Homo sapiens: one gene and its partner. The protein of the gene in region 2 interacts with the protein of the main gene of each other region in a biochemical or structural test. Each region holds a gene or a part of one and is shown on either strand. Other genes may lie near its edges. The genes, in order: OSTN and PTPRU.

Region 1 (7,298 bases), on a different chromosome or scaffold from region 2:
AGATCCAGGTCTATGTAACTTAAGAGTCAACCTGTTTCTACTAATTCACTTTGTTGTATTACAAAGTATACATACAATACTAGGAGTTAGGAGACCAGATTTCTAAAGTAACTCAGCTTGTCTCAGTTCACAGATGTTTAAAAAATAGAATTATAATGTTTTCTGTATAGGTCTAACATGACTTGTAAGGATGACAGGAGATTAATTTCAAGATAGTAAAACACTATGCAAATGTTATTTTTTCAAAAGTTTATGTATGACAATTCTATTTGAAGAAAGTGGAAGCATTCCAGAAAGGATCTGCTCTTGCAGAAGGAAATCCCTAGACAGGACAAGCGGTTGAGGAGTTTCCACCTGAACCAGGCTGTGAGCAACAGGAAGACAGAGAAAGTATCTTCTTTACTTTTATATCCCCAGTATCTGACATGCAGTGTATGCCTAATAAATGCATCCTGTTTTTGAGTAGTATAAAATTTATATTTTTGCCCCTTTGTTTAATGTTAGAGATACTTTTCCATTTATTATGTTGGCTAGCTTAATGTAATTATGATGTAAGATTTTGATCAAATATTTTATATAAGTACAAAGTGGAGTAAACAGTGAAGGGGGTCGTGAAATTCCACATTAACTTCAGATTTAAATATGCTATATTTAACTTAATTTATCCAATTTTACCCTCTGCAAGCCTTTTAATGCTGCGTAAAAAGTTGCCTATGTATGGAACGGCCAGCCGATATGTGCAACTCTATTAGCTTTTCCCTATGTACAGTTTTAAAGCTATTTTCCCTTTAGTGAGCATTAGAATTAAACAACAAATTTCATTAACAGAATTGCCTACAATTATATACTAATGTTATTTTCTATTTTTAGGTAACATAGTTTTATATCAAGAAATATTTAGTTATTTGGGGATTTAGGTACAGATTAATGTATGAAAAGGAGAAATCCTAAAGTTTAGAGGAATGATTATTTGAGGTTAGTGATGCATGTAACTTTCATTAGAATGAGAATCTGTGATGTTAAATACTAATGGATGTATCAGGATTCCAGCATGAACTTCATCACATTTTACTGTAGCTGTAGAAACATAGGCTAATCTCTTATCTTCCCTCTACCTTGGTTTTCGTATCAAGAAAGCTGGGATATTAGTATCTGCCCCGCATTCCTGTTTACCTTCCACATAAGGCTGCTCCATGCATTCATTCAACACACACATTTGACCCTGTGCCAGGCATTCTGTAAGGTGCTGAGATGCAATGGTGAACATGACATGGTCTCTGCCCTAAACGAGTTTATAACAACTAAACCCTTTGTTAAACATCCAGATCTGGGGGTTTAAAATAATAATGGAATCTTTCTCTAAGGTGGCATTGTAGGTTTCTGGCTTCTTAATTTTTGCAAGAAAGAGATTAGTAGCATTAATCACAAATCCAAATAGAGGAAAAAAACAGACAGAGATAGTTAAAAATAAAATTTTAAGATTTTGGAAGGCAAAGTATCTAAAAAAGAGTGAAAATGGTGCCAAATAGAATAAAATCAGTTAACACATGTTCTAGTAACTTATCATTCTTCCTAATTTGTTGCCTTCAGGGACAGTCATTTTAAAATGTAGGTATCTGCCACATTAATAACACTGCATCCATAAAAATATTACTTTATAAAAAATTTGTTTGGGAGATAGAAAAGGGTTTTACACTTACACAAATAGGTTATACTCGAAAGAGCATGAAACTGGGAGTCTGAAAATGAAAGTTGTTGTTCTGGCTCTTCTTCTAACTGGCTTTGTGACTTTGGAAAATTTGCTACTGCCAATTGAAGAGCACTGAGAAATGGGAAGAACACATTCCTGATATTTTATTTATTTATTTATTTATTTTGAGATGGAGTTTCGCTCTTGTTGGCCAAGCTGGAGTGCAATGGCGCAATCTCGGCTCACTGCAACCTCCGCCTCCTGGGTTCAAGCGATTCTCCTGCCTCAGCCTCCAGAGTGGCTGGGATTACAGGCACCTGCCGCCACGCCTGGCTAATTTTTTTGTATTTGTAGTAGAAACGGGGTTTCACCGTGTTAGCCAGGCTAGTCTCAAACTCCTGACCTCAGGTGATCTGCCCACCTCGGCATCCCAAAGTGCTGGGATCACAGGCGTGAGCCACCGTGCCCAGCTGATATTTTAATTTTTTTTTAACGGGAAATGTTAAATTTCTCAATGTCAGCTTGCTCCTTTTTTTCAGGAATCCAAAACATAAAGTAAATTCCCATTACACAATTTATTAAAAATAGCAAATTTCAGAAGGAAATGTTTAAATAAATGGCTATGCACCACGAGTATTTCTCAAATGTATTTTTTATGAGGATAATATAGATGATATATGTGACACTGACAGAAGCTACAAGCCACTAGCAATTTTCAATTGCTCTTGGGTGAAAATCCTCAATGATTTTAAATCTCGAATTTGAGTTTATGAAGATCCCAAACTTCTTACCCATTTCTAAGCTTCTAAGTGACACAGCCACACTCAGTTATCTGGTTTGTGAGGCAAAATTCATCAGAGACTGGAATCGCAGTTTCAATAAAAAAAGAGACCGCAATGGCTGGAGGTCCCAATCTTTGCTTTCCAGCAGGTAAGTCTCTCAATCATCTGGGTGCTTCCCTAATCAAAGAAAGCTAGAAAAACCTTCTTTAAAACTTTGTTCAAATATTGTCACTTATTGAAATATCGAGATTACCTATAGAATGACAAACTATAATTTATCCTTTTGGTTTTTTCAATATAAGTTTTGCAGATTGTCCCTATGAATGGCTGTAAGTTCCCTAAGTGACTGTTGGGTGTAAATTTTGTGTTCATAGAAAAAAATTGGCTTCAAACATCTGCCTTCAGCTTCATAACAATCACTTCAAAACAATTTTTTTAATTATGTTTTAAAAACATAATATTTTCAAATTATAGTTTACAAAGTGTTTCTACATACTATTTTAGTTTCCGTTGTAAAGTTTTTAGTTATAATAAAACACAAATTAAAAAGGTGTAGTTTTCTCACAGATAAATTTATATCCTCATATATTTTTAGGAAACAATATTAAATATAAACTTAAAAGGCTTATTTATTTGAACTCTAAGCCAATTCCATAATTTGTGCTGTTTGTAAATTAAGATTAACTAAAGTTAAATAACTTACATTTTGTGAAGAAAATCAGTTTCATTAGACAGTTTTGAATATTTTAGAGTCTTGTTCAAGATCATTAGCCCATTAAGGAGCACAGCTAAACCTCTTATTCCTGTCCTTCAAGTCTGAGCCTGAGTTTTTCCCCAGCATAATGCTGAATATCTGTATATTGTCTGAAAGAGTTTGAATATTTTTTTGAATATTTATTCTTTCATTGACAGAGAATTTTTGGAGTCACGTCAAGTAAAAAAAAATATATATATATATATGTATATAAAACCTTCACTAATATCACACACATTTGTGATGCTGGTGGAGGTTGTAGAGATCTGAAAATTCTTATTATCAAAAATTCGTATTTTGTCTTCACCAATTTTATATCTACTAAAATTAAGATCATGATTACTGAGAAAATATTCAAATGATTATTTTGTCTTGACAGACTGTTAATTCAAAATGCAGGAGAGTAGTACTCAATTATTTTTAAATTATTAATATTATTTATGTTACTTGCAACATTTCTATCTGATAACCAAGTTAAATATCATACAAGTCTTTCTTTCTCTCAGCTTAAAAGAGAGGATATAACTGCATTCTATGGCATCTGGAACCTCAGTTCTAACAATTTTTGTTTTGAAAGGGTAGGGAAATGAGCATACTGACTTATGCATGATAGGAAAAAAAAGAGAAGTAAGAAAAAAATCCTAAGTAAGGCCTGGCACAGTGGCTCATGCCTGCAATCTCAGCACTTTGGGAGGCTGAGGCGAGTGGATCACCTGAAGTCAGGAGTTCGAGAACAGCCTGGCCAACATGGCGAAACCCTGTCTCTAGTAAAAATACAAAACTTAGCCAGACACGGTGGCAGGGCCTGTAATCCCAGCTACTCAGGAGGCTGAGGCAGGAGAATCTTGCTGGAACCTGGGAAGCGGAGGTTGCAGTGAGCCAAGATCGTGCCACTGCACTCCAGCCTGGGCAACAAGAGCGAAACTCCATCTCAGAAAAAAAAAAAAAAATCCTAAGTAAACATTTTAAAATAAATATATTACCATATGTCATCAATTTTGCCTCACATTTAACATCTCTGAAATTGGAATTAGTCTTACATTTGATAAGCATATCAATTTAATTGGTAGCATTGTTTTTTCTTAACATGTTCTTAAAAATGGAATGTCTTACCATAAATGACATCCCAAAATCAAAGATTTGGAGATTCTTTCTTTTCAGCTAGAAATACCTAATTTTAAAAATACTGAAAGTGAAAGAGGAAAATATTTCTGTCACAGCCTAGATGCAATTTTTTGCATAAACTTTGGCTGATTTGAGGAACTCATCCAGTCAGTTTTCCTAGCTAAATCTGCACTATTCTCATTACCTACATGTTAAGTGTCTGCACTTTTACCAGAAAATAGCCAGCTTCACCAGTGAGCTTTAAAAGCCAGATGCAACATTAGAGGTCAGTTAGACCATCTCCATTTTAGTTGGTCTAGAGAGGAAAGTGTTTGCCCAACATCACATCACTAAATAGCAACAGAGGCAATGAAGAGCCTGAGTCTCACGACTCTTGCATCAGGTCTTTTTTCCATTACAGAGAGCTATGCAGACTTTGTGTTAAGCACTGTCCCTTTTAGGCCTTTTTCTAAGATAAAAAATTATTGTCACTCTGTCATTTATTATTCCTGAGTGTTTATAACTTAATGGAGTGGGTAAAGGGTAACCTGAAGAACGTATTATGTTTTACAGACTTACTTATGAGCCAAGCTGACTCACGACTTGCCTGGAAGAACACCATTATTTCAATGGGAGAAGATTTTAGGCGGTGTTGTCGGCAGGCACGCATGGTCATTTCATGGTGTCAGAACTAAGGCCCCTTTATAAAATATCCTGCTAAATCTCTTAAATGTATGTGCTCTGTCGCGGTGAGAAGAGAAAGTAAAGAAAATGTAGCCGTTGAATTAGTTTGTAAATCCTTTAATTAAGTCCTTTATTTTAAATTTTTGTTCAAAGGAGACTGGAGTCTATTTTGAGTATTGCCAATCAAGGTATTAGGGTAAATAATTAAAAATTCCTAGACAATATCAAGATTTACTCACAAACCTAGTACCTTTGTGAATTTCTAATTGTTGGATCAACTATCCATAAGTCAGATGTTAATCATAAATTTGCAGGTTGAAGAGAAATGTCCTTTACACCTGAGTTGTTTTTTTTTTGTTGTTCAACACCAGACTTCACATGCAGATAGTTTAAAAGTCTTATTGATTAATAGGTGCATGAGATCAGATACTGGCTTACATTGCTTCTCTTTTTCAGCCTAACCATCTCTAACATTTATACATCTCATAGAAGTTTGCTCTTTCTTTTGTAGATAAATGATTTTCAATCTCTTTTTTTCTACCCCAGCCCACATGAGAGACTTTTTTCACAATAAAAATAGCTCATTGCAACACTGATTCCTACTAATAAAAACATCTTTCTTCATCTTAACAGGCTTCTTATTAAACTCTGGTTTAAATATAATTAAGCCAGTTTTTCTTTATTGCTGGAATTTCAGAGCCTTTAATGTGAATTGGAACTCTAACACCTCTTTAAAAATATACAATATATCCCAAACATAAATGACAAAATTTTATACCTCCTGACAAAACTTTATACCTCACTGCGTTATTCCATATACCATCATTCTAGCCAGTTTGAAAGATCCTTTCAGGGTATAGTCAATTCTTACATGTGGAAAGTCCTTAAAATAAAGCATAAGATGTTATACAACATAAGACATTTGTTTATTCAGCAGAATTATTTAAAACGTCAAAACACATAATAGTCCAATTGTCTAAAAAATGAAGGACGTACACAGATAATCTTCTTATAAGGCGGATTCCATGGTCGCTGTTTCTTTTGAAACTCCACACTATCCAGAGAAATATTACTCAAAAATTACTTTTAAATAATGATGTGCTAAAAAAAAATGCAAACACCTTTACTTTGGTGCATTCACGCAATCAATGAACACCCTTTCATTGAACTTTCTGTGATCTAGAGTATACATGGTGCCTAAGAGATTTTAAATCATGGGCTATATTTATCCACTATCAACAAAAATAGGAAAATGGGGCTGAACTTAGACTTTTCCTTTCCTCCCTATAATTTCCTCCATTTCTAATTTTGTAGCAATCAAGTTTCAACTAGTTAATCAAATGTCTTTTGTATGGCAGGTGCCAGGGTGTTTGTTTTCATTAGTGTACCAAATGCCACATTTAGGAACTTGGCCTTTTGGTTAACTGGCTACAAGCATGGCTTTAAACCATTAAATGTGTGTATTTAAACTCAGCATTTATTTTTACATCTCCTTATCCAAATAATCAGGATGTGGTTATCTGTAAGATGATACATCATGATTTTTTCCTATATACACCCAAGCACAAAAATATATACCTCAGACATAATCATCAATATTGTAAACACTCATCATCCTGTACCATTTATAAGATTACAGAGAAGAGGAGAAACCTGGTTAGTGAAATGTACATAAAAATAGTTAAAGGAAATCCACATGGAAAGGCATATAAATTTGGGCAATTTTCACATTTGAAACCTATTTTTATGACAAAAAGCAAGAAAGGAAAACATAAAGAATTGTAGTTTGTCTTTGATTAAATGGGACAACAATTTCTTTTAAAAAGATATATCAGGCCAGACGTGGTGGCTCACGCCTATAATCCCAGCACTTTGGGAGTCTAAGGCAGGTGGATCACCTGAGGTCAGGAGTTCGAGAGCAGCCTGGTCAACATAGAGAAACTCTGTCTCTACCAAAAATACAAAAAATTAGCTGGGTGTGGTGGTGGGCACCTGTAATCCCAGCTACTCAGGAGGCTGAGGCAGGAGAATCGCTTAAACCTGGGAGGCAGAGGTTGCAGTGAGCTGAGATTGCACCACGGCACTCCAGCCTGAGCAACAGAGTGAAACTCCATCACAAAAATAAATAAATAAAAAAGATATATCGGAAATATGAAATCATTTTAAAAATACAGATATGTTCTTAGTACATCCTCCTTTATGTAAAGTCAAAGAGACATCAGCAAAATCAGGAGAAAAAGAATACAATTAAGTGGCTGGCTTCCTAAAGTAATCACTAATACAG
Region 2 (4,077 bases):
AAGGACCCTGGGTGGTGGCTGGGGCAGCTTTTAATGACCCTCTGTGTCATCAGGGGCCCCTGGGACCCTGGTGCTCATGTCCTCCCTGGCTGGCTGCCCCTGTCCCCAGTTGCAGGAGGGGCACCTGCTGGTGCGGCACTTCCAGTTCCTGCGCTGGTCTGCATACCGGGACACACCTGACTCCAAGAAGGCCTTCTTGCACCTGCTGGCTGAGGTGGACAAGTGGCAGGCCGAGAGTGGGGATGGGCGCACCATCGTGCACTGCCTGTGAGTACCTGCCCTGTGGGAGGGCGGGTGGAGGGGTTGGGGAGCCAGGGGCAGAGGTCCAGTCTGAAAGGGTGCCAGCTTTGGCTGGACTGCAAAGCTGGCACCGAAACCCCTGGGCTCTTAGATGGCTGTGGCCAGGATGCTGCCCAACCAGCCAAGGCTGGCCCTGGAGGAATCCAGTGAGTTTCCAGGCTATAGACTCAGCCCTGAACAACTGCCCAGTATCCTCTGTGTGATGTCTGACTTTGCCAATTTAATTAGAGTCCTTGGTCAGAATTTTTTACCCCATGAGATTGTGGCACACTTTTATGCCAATAGAATTCCAGTCTTTGTTCATGCATGCACACATGTGACTTTTTCCATCCATCCATCCATCCACCCATCCATCCATCCATCCATCTGCATGCCCCATTCATAAGTTCATGTATTCACTCATGTCTGGGTGCAGTCACTCCTTTGCTCCCCACTTTTTCATGCTTTCAGCATTTACTGAGCCTTTCGAGTGGCAGGCTGGGCCTACTGGAAGCTGGTGCGGAGCTGAGTCAGTCCGGGTCTGGCCCCCAGGGGTTTTGGTTCTGGTGGGAAAGACCCCTGAGAAGGGGAGTGAGGGCCGCATCAGTCTGCCATTCCCCAGGAGGCACCCCACACGTGGAGTCACAGGGAAGGAGGGAGAGGCACGGAGGGGATGGAGCTCTGTGGGAGGCTGTGGGTTTGACTTGGGGTTTGGGTACGTTTGTGCCTGTGTGCCCACGATGCCAGGTGGTGACCAGTCTTCTCAGCATTCCTGTTCCACCTTGCTCTCTGGGTACGCGCTTGCTGCTCCTCCGCCCTTCTTTGTCACTGTCTTTGTCTCTCCGGGTGTTTCTCTTGGAGTGTGTCTGGCCTCCTTTCTCTCAGAATCCGCAGTCTGTTTCGCCTTGAGAATATGTCTTCTGAGATGTCTTAGCCTCTGATCCTTCTTAACCTGGTCCTGCTCCTCCCTCTGGGTTCCCTAGCCCCGCCCCTTACCTCTGGGTCCTCTGCCCCGCCCTTCTGAGTTCCCTAGTTCTGCCCCTCACCTTGGGCTCTTTGGCCCTCCTTAGTTTCCTAGCCCCGCCCCTCACCTCTGGACTCTTTGGCCCCTCCTTTCTGGGTTTCCTAGCTCTGCCCCTCATCTCTGGGCTCTTTGGCCTCTTCCTTCTGGGTTCCCTAGCTCCGCCCCTCTCCTCTAGGCTCTCGGGCCCCTCCTTTCTGTGTTCTCTAACTCCGCCCCTCACCTCTGGGCTCTCTGCCCCACCCTTCTAGATTCCCTAGCTCCGTCCCTCTCCTCTAGGCTCTCTGCCCCTCCCTCGTGGTTCCCTGGCCCTTTTCTTACCTTCAGGTTCCAAGGCCCCGCCCCTCAGCTTTTGCATCTCTCATTCAGAAACGGGGGAGGACGCAGCGGCACCTTCTGCGCCTGCGCCACGGTCCTGGAGATGATCCGCTGCCACAACTTGGTGGACGTTTTCTTTGCTGCCAAAACCCTCCGGAACTACAAACCCAACATGGTGGAGACCATGGTGAGGGGCTGTGTCCCGTGCCCAGCCACTTCCACCTTCCTGGTCCATGCCAGGCCAGGTTCCTTAGCACCCACTCTCCCATATCTGGGCCCCACCACTGGGCCTTGGTTCTAGCCCTGTGGTCCTAAAACATTACCCCCATTTCTCCCTTCTCCCCGAGGGCGGGCCTGGGCTCGGGCTCGTGCTTGCCCTCTCACTCCCCGTTCCCCTCCCCCCACAATACTGGAGTTGGGGTCAGGCTCATGATTCCCTCCCTCTCTTCCTCTCCCCAGGATCAGTACCACTTTTGCTACGATGTGGCCCTGGAGTACTTGGAGGGGCTGGAGTCAAGATAGCGGGGCCCTGGCCTGGGGCACCCACTGCACACTCAGGGCCAGACCCACCATCCTGGACTGGCGAGGAAGATCAGTGCCTCCTGCTCTGCCCAAACACACTCCCATGGGGCAAGCACTGGAGTGGATGCTGGGCTATCTTGCTCCCCCTTCCACTGTGGGCAGGGCCTTTCGCTTGTCCCATGGGCGGGTGGTGGGCCAAGGAGGAGCTTAGCAAGTCTGCAGCCCAGCCCCACCTCCATAGGGTCCTGCAGGCCTGTGCTGAGAGGCCTGGTGCTGCCTGGCAGAGTGACAAAGGCTCAGGACGGCTGGCTCTGGGGGACTCAGGCCAAGCCCCTTGGCACCATCCTGGCTTTTGGCAGGGATGAGTGAGGCCCTGCAGAGAGCATCCCAGGCCAAGGTTCCCACTCAGCCTGCCCCCTCTGCATGTGGGTAGAGGATGTACTGGGACTTGGCATTTAGGATTCCATCTGGCCCAGCCCCTGAAGGTCCTGGGGAAGCAGGTCTCAATTCTGAATAGCCAGTGGGGCACACTGACTGTCCTCCCCAGGGGAACTGCAGCGCCCTCCTCCCCACTGCCCCCTGCAGCCCCTGAGATATTTTGCTCACTATCCCTCCCCACTTGCTTCCCTGATATGTGCTCTGAGCTTCCCTGAACCAGGATCTGCCTATTACTGCTGTGCCCCATGGGGGGCTCCTTCCCTGCCTGACCCACTGTTGCAGAATGAAGTCACCTCGCCCCCCTCTTCCTTTAATCTTCAGGCCTCACTGGCCTGTCCTGCTCAGCTTGGGCCAGTGACAATCTGCAAGGCTGAACAACAGCCCCTGGGGTTGAGGCCCCTGTGGCTCCTGGTCAGGCTGCCCGTTGTGGGGAGGGGCAGTGTTAGAGCAGGGCTGGTCATACCCTCTGGAGTTCAGAGGAAGAGGTAGGACCAGTGCTTTTTTGTTTCTTTTGTTATTTTTGGTTGGGTGGGTGGGAAGGTCTCTTTAAAATGGGGCAGGCCACACCCCCATTCCGTGCCTCAATTTCCCCATCTGTAAACTGTAGATATGACTACTGACCTACCTCGCAGGGGGCTGTGGGGAGGCATAAGCTGATGTTTGTAAAGCGCTTTGTAAATAAACGTGCTCTCTGAATGCCACAGAGCAGCCCTGTGTGTGTCTCACCAGCCTGACGGGGCCTGCTCACCTGCCCCCAGCCTCCAGTGCAGTGGGAGGGCCCTGGAGAAGCCTGGGTTCTGATCTGGTCCTGGTTTTTCCATTCGTAAAATGGTGGGAGTGTGGACCAGGACATCACTCAGGGTCCTTCCACTTTCAGAGTTGGTTCCAAGGGACCCTGGCCATTGCTGTCCCCATCCAGGCCTCTGAAGCAGTTCCTCAGGTAGGGTATATCAACTCGAGATCCCTGAGGGCCACAGAGCTGCCTCTCACTCCACTGGGGGCCCTGGATCAGGTTCAGCTCTTTCTGGGGCAGCATGGGAGGCTCAGGCTTTGGTGTCAGGCAGATGGGCCCAGCAGCTGCGAGACCCTGGGCAAGTTAGTGCCCTCTCTGGGGCCTACTTTATCATCTGTAAAGTGGGGACAGTCCTGTTTGGATCAGATGAGGTAATGATTAAGTGCCTTATGTAGTGCCAAGCGTGTTGAAAGGGCTTACTTTACAAACATCGCAGAGATGGGGGCAGAGGAGACACAGCCCTGCTGGGGATGACCGTCCCATTGCCCCAGCCCAGCCCATTCCCAGCCCCAGCCGCCTCCATGGGGTAGAGAGGGAGGAGGAGCAGGCTGGCTGGTAGGGACCTGGGTCACTCCTGACTCTGTCACAGGCTTGCTGCCTGACCTTGGACAAGACAATTCCTGTTTCTGGAACTCAGTTTCTTCATATGAAGGCTGACTCTATGATGTACTCATTCTGTTTGCACACTGGCTGACCCTCTGTGCCT

What was found.
Region 1: the proteins of PTPRU (region 2) and OSTN form a complex in vitro, tested with the Homo sapiens proteins (one study listed by BioGRID).

What each region holds. Positions count from the first base shown.
Region 1 is NC_000003.12:191,202,028-191,209,325, forward strand, and holds part of OSTN (osteocrin precursor), read left to right. Parts: intron 1-4,903; exon of another isoform or gene 4,904-5,062; intron 5,063-7,298. UniProt on the Homo sapiens protein: Hormone that acts as a regulator of dendritic growth in the developing cerebral cortex in response to sensory experience. Induced in the brain following membrane depolarization and inhibits dendritic branching in neurons of the developing cortex.
Region 2 is NC_000001.11:29,323,522-29,327,598, forward strand, and holds the end of PTPRU (receptor-type tyrosine-protein phosphatase U isoform 1 precursor), read left to right. Parts: intron 1-109; coding exon 110-267; intron 268-1,669; coding exon 1,670-1,805; intron 1,806-2,077; coding exon 2,078-2,140; 3' UTR 2,141-3,279; downstream 3,280-4,077.